Regions from separate parts of the Homo sapiens genome. Here all the other regions are linked to region 3. The links come from fine-mapping of genetic effects on gene expression. A gene starts in region 3. Each other region holds a variant in brackets. All regions are shown on one strand. Distances are from middle to middle.

What was found. PIP is the estimated chance that this variant, and not a neighbour inherited with it, causes the effect.
Region 1: its variant is the best candidate, but not a certain one, in a credible set for the expression of SNX13 in fibroblasts (GTEx, PIP 0.75).
Region 2: its variant is the best candidate, but not a certain one, in a credible set for the expression of SNX13 in atrial appendage (GTEx, PIP 0.75).

What each region holds. Positions count from the first base shown.
Region 1 is chr7:17,675,828-17,678,593 of GRCh38, reverse strand. No RefSeq gene overlaps it. Among named protein-coding and RNA genes, the nearest start is that of LINC02889, 120 kb to the right of the region's middle. The variant C/G (reference allele first, on the strand shown) is at 1,575.
Region 2 is chr7:17,844,195-17,846,960 of GRCh38, reverse strand. SNX13 (sorting nexin 13) reads left to right here. Exons shown (of 26, transcript NM_015132.5): 12 at 1,267-1,366. Among named protein-coding and RNA genes, the nearest start is that of SNX13, 95 kb to the left of the region's middle. The variant A/G (reference allele first, on the strand shown) is at 1,116.
Region 3 is chr7:17,938,896-17,941,661 of GRCh38, reverse strand. SNX13 (sorting nexin 13) reads left to right here and starts at 1,168. Exons shown (of 26, transcript NM_015132.5): 1 at 1,168-1,378. The coding sequence starts at 1,367.

The DNA of each region.
Region 1 (2,766 bases), 260 kb after region 3:
ACACTGTTCCTACCTACATGGAACTTGTGTTCTGATGGGCGAGATGAGCAGAAAACAATACAGTATGTTGTCAGGAACAGATGAATGCATTGAAGAAAAATACCACTAATTAATCAAGGTAATGGAGGATGACGGTATTTGCATTTTAGGTGGGAGAGTCAAGGAAGCCCTCTCAGAGAGGTGGCCTGGAGCCCAGACTGTAGCAAGGTAAATAAGAGAGTCACGGGCTCTCTGCAGGGAGAGGTTCTAGGCAGAGGACTTTCTCCAGATTTGCTTCTCTGTCTACCTTCCACTTAGTTGCTCAGCCTAGGATGTTGGGTGTTTATGAATCCCTTCTTCACTCCCATGCCCCAAAGTCATAAGACTTATCATGTTTTTGACCTTAATCTCTCTTGAGGCTTTCCTCTTTTCTTTAGCTCCATTACCACTACTATACTTTAATCCATCCTTCAGTTGTTTTATTTTTCCCACCAGGATAACTGCCATGGACTCCAGAGAATCGTTCCCATACCCAGCCTTATCCTTTCAATTCTTCTGTTTTCCATAGTCATATGCCTGTTGCATTCATCTGATCCTCAACATTGCTCTTTGATAGCTCCCCCGAGCTTTCAAGATGAAGTGCAAACACCACTGCGCACACAGGGCTTTGATGATTTGGCCCTTACTTCTGTCTTGAACTTTATTTCTCTCTAAAGCAAGACTATTGCCTTGATCTCCTAGTTATGCTTAGCAATTTTTCAAATAAGCCGTATTTCTTTTTACTTCCAGAGTTTACACGCTGCTACTCTTCTTGAGAGAGACTTCCTCTGTTCTTCGCCTGAAAAACCCAGTCTCATCCTCTAAGATAGTTAAATGACCCTTGTTTCACTGCATCCTGTGTTACCTCTTTCAAAGGGCTTAACTATCCCAAGCATCTTGACATGTCTAGCTAATCCATTCCCAACTTATTTATCATGGAAGCCTCAGCATATGATTCATAATAGGTCCTTTACTGAATGTACAAAAAAATGTAAAATACAGACTTAGTATTCTTTATCTGAAATGCTTGGGAACAGAGTGTTTTGGATTTCAAAAGTTTTTGGATGTTGAAATATTTGCATGTACATAATGAGACGTCTTGGGGATGGAGTCCAAATCTAAACACAAAACTCATTTATGTTTCATAAACACTTTATATACATAGCCTGAGTGTAATTTTGTACAATATTTTAAATAATTTTGTGCAAAGTTTTGCCTGCATTTTGACTGAGACCCATCACATGAGGTTTGGTGTAAATTTTTCCACTTATGTTGTCATGTTGGTACTTAGAAAGTTTTGGATTTGTGAGCATTTTGGAGTTTTGGACTAGGGATGCTCAGCCTGTATACATTTTTATATTTTAATTTTCAATATTATTATAGAAATAAAAATGGCAATAGTTACAATACTTATTAAATGCTAAGTACTGTTTTGAATACTTTATATGTTTATCTCATATAAACCTCGTGACAGCTCCTTTGAAATAGTTGCATTGTCTCTATTTTACAGATGAAGAAAGTGAGGTAAAATAAATTTCCCAAGGTCATATATCAAA[C/G]CCAGGCAGACTGGCTCACAGTTCGTGTTCATAACCTCGATGCCTTGTTCCCTTTTTATAGCATTAGAAACAATTTCATGTTCTGGTAAATTTTTTTTTTAAATGTGTAGAATGATGTGTGAATTATACAGAAAGCAACCTTATTTCTTTAGAGTTATCCTTTATGTTTAACTACAATAGTTACTTCCCAAGGAAAGAAAGATTTCTCTAGGCTGGGAGAAAGGGGTAGAGATGAGAAAATAATTTCCCACATCAGTGGAAAAATGGCCTCACAGCAATCTGTAGACGTGAGAAAATGTGTGGATAGATGATGTGTAACCAGAGGGCCTCTTCTACCCTCAAGATATCTTGGACCTGCATAGAATCTTGGAAGCACGCCACAGACCCATGTTGGTATTGGTGGACAGGGAACCTTAATGACTGAGTTAAATTTTCTACCTGCATGGCCCAATGGGAGCTTATAATAAAATTAAATTATTTTACGGAAAATGTACAGTTGCAAATGTTCTTACACACATAGTTGAGTTTATAGTGATTTTTATACCCTTCTTACATCCTTTAGAGAGCTGTTTTTCTCTAAATGTATCCACGCCTTCTATGAATTGGTCTTTTCAAAAAGGTTGTTGACTGAGGAAAATTTCTAACACAACAATCTGGCCCGTTCCCAAATTGGGCAAAGCCATCCTTGGAGAGCAATTAATGTCTGACCTCTGGTCTTAGAATGAGAGGGGAATGTGTTTATAAACATGAAATTTAAAATGAAATATCAGGTGAGTGTAATCAGAATTGTTGAAAGGACCCAATTCAGAGAGATTTAGTCTGTTTCTTGATAACCTCTGAAGTCCAAGAATTGCAAAAGGCTTTAATAAGTAGTAGATCTCATGTAAAATCAATAATTGTGGTTGTCTGTGGCCTCCAGTAAAATTTCATTAGTGTTCGTTTTCACTAGTGTAAGCATCTCTTTGGTGCACCATGTATTCCATGGTCACTATTTAAATAGTGAGGCACTAACACTGTATTTGAAGCACACATCAGAAAGCCAGTGGGTATGGGATTTTGACTATAGGCTATTGAGTCAGAATGTTTTTGTTGTTATTTCACCTTGGTTAATTATCCTCTTCAACCGACTCTCATACTGTCTACAATCAAGATAGCATTCCTATTAATCTTTCATGGGAGGCGTTGCAGAATC
Region 2 (2,766 bases), 95 kb after region 3:
TCCTTTGTAAGTAAACTCAGAATCCCCACGGATTTGCAGTTATATAGCCATGTTACTTATCTTGAAATCTTAGAAACCTTTATCCTCAGCGAATTTTCCTTCCATCCTGTATCTGTGGAGCCGCTGCTGGGCAGGAGAAAGAGGTGATACAATTTGAAGAAGGGAGACTTAGTAGGAATCATGTGCTGCCTCTAGATTGCTCTCTACCAGACATCTAAAGTCAGTTAGCTGTTATTATTCAGTACTTACATGAAGGAAAATACAAATTATAGAGATGGATTTGTTTTTTTTTTTAATTCTCTACATTTTCCTTTATTTACCACCTATGCTTAATTTAGTATCTGCCTCTGAATATGGCAGCCTACTTCATTTACAGTAAACCTGCCTATCTTTCTTTTTTAAATAGAGGGTTCTGAAATATGAATTTGGGAATATAGAGAAGCCAGTGAAAATAAATAATTCATGGAAACATCATGGCTCTTATTGGAAAGGGCAGCAGCATTTGAAAACATGTAGTCATACTTACCGGCTTTGTGACTTAATAGGCAACCTTTTTCATCTTCGTTTTCCTTGTCTGTTAAGTAGACGTGGTGATACATATCCAACAGGATTGCTGTGCGGATTAAATGAAGTAATATCTGTAATGTAACTAGCCCAAAGCCTGATACGTAGATGCTCTTTAAATTTTGGACGCAATTTTTCCCTTTTTTTTTTTCATATGTAGGTTGTTTCCTTGCTCTGTGACTTTGAAAAGTATGTCTGAAATTCACTGTTTAGAGAGTCTGGAAAAAAAACACATTTTATCTAATAATTAGAGATTTTACTGAGTTAGGAGCAAAATTACTCTTTAGGCATATTTTGTTTTCCTAGTAGTAAATAGACTTTATACATGAAAATGTTGAGTTTTTAAAATTCTTGCGTATATTAACCATTTCCTTCACCCTTTTAGCCTTTGGAATGTTCATTTTCATTTGGAATATATAGAGATAGAGAATAATTGAAAATATAGTGATTTCTATTTATTTTATATTGAAACAGTTGAATGCTATTATTTTTAATGTGTTAATATTTTTAATTTGCTAAGCAACTCTTAACTAGGAATTTAAATTCACACA[A/G]TGTATATCTATTGGGAAACAACATGCATGAGAAGGGAAAAACTTCATCTTTACTCCGTTTTAGCTTGATTTTTTTCCTTATATTTATGTACACATCTTTAACAATGAATGATTAGATAAAATATTAACTTATATTCACTTTTGCCTGTAGGAAATAAATACTGTGAAACTTGCAGCAAACTTTGGGAAACTTTGCACAGTCCCCCTGGACAGCATTCTTGTAGACAATGTTGCACTACAATTTTTTATGGGTAGGTAGATCAATTCTATTTAAATGATACAGCCATTGAATTTCTTTTTCGATTTTTTATTGTAAAATACACATAAAATTTAGTATCTCAACTATTTTTAAGTGTATAGTTCAGTGATATTAAATGTATTCATGATGTTGTACAGAGTCTCCAGAACTGTTTTTATCTTCCAAAACTGAAACTCTACTCATTAAACACCAACTCTCTCCATTCCTCACACTCTCAACCCCTGCAACCATCATTCTGCTTTCTGTCTCTATAATTTTGACTACTCTTAAGTACCTCACGTAGGTGGAATTGTACAGTATTTGCCTTTTTGTGACTGGCTTACTCACTTAACGTGGATATGCCCTCAGGTTTTATCCGTGTTATAGCATATGTGAGAATTTCCTTCCTTTTTAATGCTGAATAATATTCGTGTGTGTGTGTGTGTGTGTGTGTACACACACGCACACACTTGCTTCTCCCCTTACCTCTTCTCCCCTCCCTCCACTTTTCCTAATTTCTCTGCCTAGTACTTCCAGTACTATGTTGAAACGAAGTGGCAAACACAGGCATCTTTGTCTTGTTCCTGATCTTAATCTTTTTGTTCCTGATCTTAATCTTTGTCTTGTTCCTGATCTTAAAGAAAAGTATTTTGTCTTTCATCATTGAGTATATTATTCACTGTGGGATTTTTCAGATACAGCTTTTATTATTTTGAGATAGTAGCCTTCTGTTCCTAGTTTATTGAGTGTTTTTGTCATGAAAATGTGTTGAATTTTGTGATATGCTTTTTGTGCATCAATTAAGATGTGGTGTTTATCCTTCATTCTGTTGTGCTGTATTAGACTGATTTTTTTTTTTTTGTATGTTCAACCATCTTTGGATTCCAGGAATAAATGCCACCTTAGTCATGGTGTATAATTTCTTTAATATGCTGCTGAATTTGTTTTGCTAGTATTTTATGGAGGATTTTTACATCTATATTTATAAGGAACATTGGTCTGTAGTTTTCTTGTACTATCTTTATCTGGTTCTGTTTTCAGGATAATGCTGGCCTCATAGAATGAGTTAGGAAGTGTTTCCTGTTTAATTTTTTGGAAAAATTTAAAAAGGATTGGTGTTACTTTTCTTTAAATGTTTGATAGAATTCACCAGTAAAGCTATTCAGGTCCAGGTCTTTTCTTTATTGACGATTTTTGGTTACTGATTCATTCTCCTTACTACGTTATCAGTCTCCTCAGATTTTCAATTCCTTCATGATTTAGTTTTGGTGGATTTTCTGTTTCTAGGAATTTTTCCATTTCCACTAGGATATCCGATTTATTGGCATACAATTGTTCATAGTACTTTTAGTTTTGTAGAGTCATTAGTAATATCCCCACTTTCACTTCCGATTTTAGTAATTTGAGTCTTTT
Region 3 (2,766 bases):
AAATTTCATTTAGCACAACAGTACTATTGTTAAATGGAGGGAAAAGATTCTGGTAAAAGGGAAGAAACTCCTGGCTTTAGTTTTCTAAAATGCTTTTGTACCTCTTGTAAGAATGACATGGAGGTGTTTTTAATGTCAAGTCTGAAAATTTGCTTTTCAATTTACTTGGAAACTGGTTTCTAATACAAAACAGGGTAGCACACTTTCCCAGCATGTTCAGGTAAACTACTTTCATCACAATTCAGGTAGAAGTGACTGCCTTTAATTCCGTACATCGCAAACCATCTAGTGGTAGATCTAGAATGGCGTCAGTCTCAGGGACTTCTATGCACATTGAGTTCCAGAGTTCAATTCCATTTAAGTTGGGACTATTTACAATGACATTTGCTGAAATTTGCTCACCTTGATATACAAGCATATTGTATTAAGCAGCTAGTAAACCTGTGGAGATAGCAGGTAAAACGTAAAGCCTGTTTTACGTTTTTTTAGAGGTGCATTACTTGTAGCATAACTAAACCTTCATTGTTAGGCAGGTGCTGGCCAATTACATCAGCAAGTCCTAACTCCGCTAGGATCGGGGTAAAGCCGATAAGCCGCATCATATCTACAACCTGTCTCGGACCCCTGTAAAGAACTCACTGAGGATTGGTAGGGACAAAGGGAAGTTTCTGTCAAAGTTTAGGAGAAAAGGGCCGCGCAGGGAGCTGTTTCAAATAACACTTAAATCCCAGGAGAAGAAAGCCGAACCCCAACTCTTCGGTCGCCGCGGGGCCAGGGAGACGCGAGAGGGAAGTTTTTCTAAAGGAAATCTGCCGCCTTGTCCCCAAGACCAGCGAGGTCCGCAGCGCCATCAGTCAAGTGTCGGCCTCTGGCATTTTCTCCTCTCCCCAGGGCGGGCCAACGCTAGTGGGCGGTGGATGATGCGCCGGCCCCAAGGGCGCGCACGTCCATTCCCGGAAGGCTCGGGCGCTGGGGCCCCTCTGCACTCCCAGCGGTCCCAAGTTGGCCCAGGCGCCCGGTCCCGGGGTCCTACAAGTCAGCGCCAAGCCGACTGCCGACAGCCTACCTCCGCTTCTCCGCGCGCCGGCGCTATGGAGACGGTCACGAGACGCCAGCAGCCCCTGCGCCCGCCAATGGGAACGCACGTTGCAGCGAGACGCGGACGTCGCTCTTCCAAGATGGCGGCGCGTCCGTCGCGAGCGACCGGGCCGAGGGGAGGCCAGCGAAGCCGAGTAAAACCGCCGCCCGGGAGAAGACTGAAGGAGCAGTTGCCGCCGTTGGCGGCGGCCCGAGCAGTTTTCGCTGCTGCTACGGCTGTTGCCATGAGGCGAGGCTAGGGAGGACCTCACTTCCCCGGGGTGTAATAATGTTAACTGAGGTAAGCGGCGACGGTGGCCAGTGTTTACCTGTGAAATGGGGAAGGGGCCGGCGCCAGCCCGTCAGAGAACATCATCTGTACGGAAGGTGGGCCTGACCCTTCGCCGTGGGCTCCAGGGCCCGAGGAGCAGCGGGGATCCTACAAGTGCCCTCAGAGTAGGAGCTGTGCTGACTCAACAGAGTCCCACCACCTCCGGCTGCCAGTGCCTCGCCTTTCGCAGTTGCCACTTGCCACTCGCCCCTGGCACTGGTCTCCCTCCTGCTGTCACTCCCTTCTAACTCATCGCTCCCTTCTTCGTGTCCCCTTACACGCTACTCTGTGGCAGCGTTGGCCTTTCCACGTTACTGCTGGTTCTTGTGATCCTATGGTTTGCCCTAGGTCTCCTTTCTCTGGTCCCTGGGCTCCAGGGCCCTCCGCCTCCGAGCTCGGTCAGCACCCTGGGGTTGTTGCTCGGCCCGACCGGTTTGTTTCCCACCCTCTACTTTGACTGCTTCATGAAGTGGACTTTTTTATCTCAAGCTGCACATGTATGGCTCAGTTGGGTCATCCCCCTCCCCCACATCCATCACCTTTTCGGTTAAATCGTGGTCATCACAAAGTTCAGTTTAGCATCTGCCACCTTGATTTGCGTGTGGCCCCCTTGTTACTCCCTATGGAATAGTTTTTTTCTTTGGACCTGAAATGGAAGTAGGGCAACTATGACGAACCAATCAATTTCCCTTTTCTAGTGCCTAATGGGCATTGCAAAAAGCCGACTTTTTGAAGAAGTAGAGTTTGCCTTTACTAGCAACACTTTAAGGGGAAGAACTAAATCGGTGCAACTAGGTACTTGACCCAGGTTAGCCCAGTTATGTGTTGTAGTATCTGCAGGTGTAGGTGTCACTGAACATAAAATACTGAACCTTGTGATTTGATGAAATACCTTTTTCGAAGCCTTTCACTTTAAGTACTGTGAGGATCCTGACGTGAGGAACTGACCGGATTGGGCATTTTTATGGGCTGAACTGAATAGGAAACAGTTTTAGTGGGCAATGGGAAGTATTCCTACATGGGCCAAAAAGGAAATACAAACATTTGTAGGTGAGTGGCTTTTATTTTGTGAAAAGTGATGGTAAAGCACGTACTTGCCTGAAATTTCAGGTCCTTGGAACGTGACTAACTTTGAGGAACTTTATACTTTGCTGTTTGTACTTAATCTAAGCACAGAGCCTGGCATATGATAAATACTTACTGGTTGATTGTAACTTCTACAGTACGTATTTTTAGTTGTTTGAAGTTCATTTTATATTTCTAAATTCTACAGATTTTTCATTCTTGGAGTTAATTGAGATTATGGTTATAGCATAAGTTTGTGTTGTGATTAGCAGTAATAGATTAGAAAAAAGAGT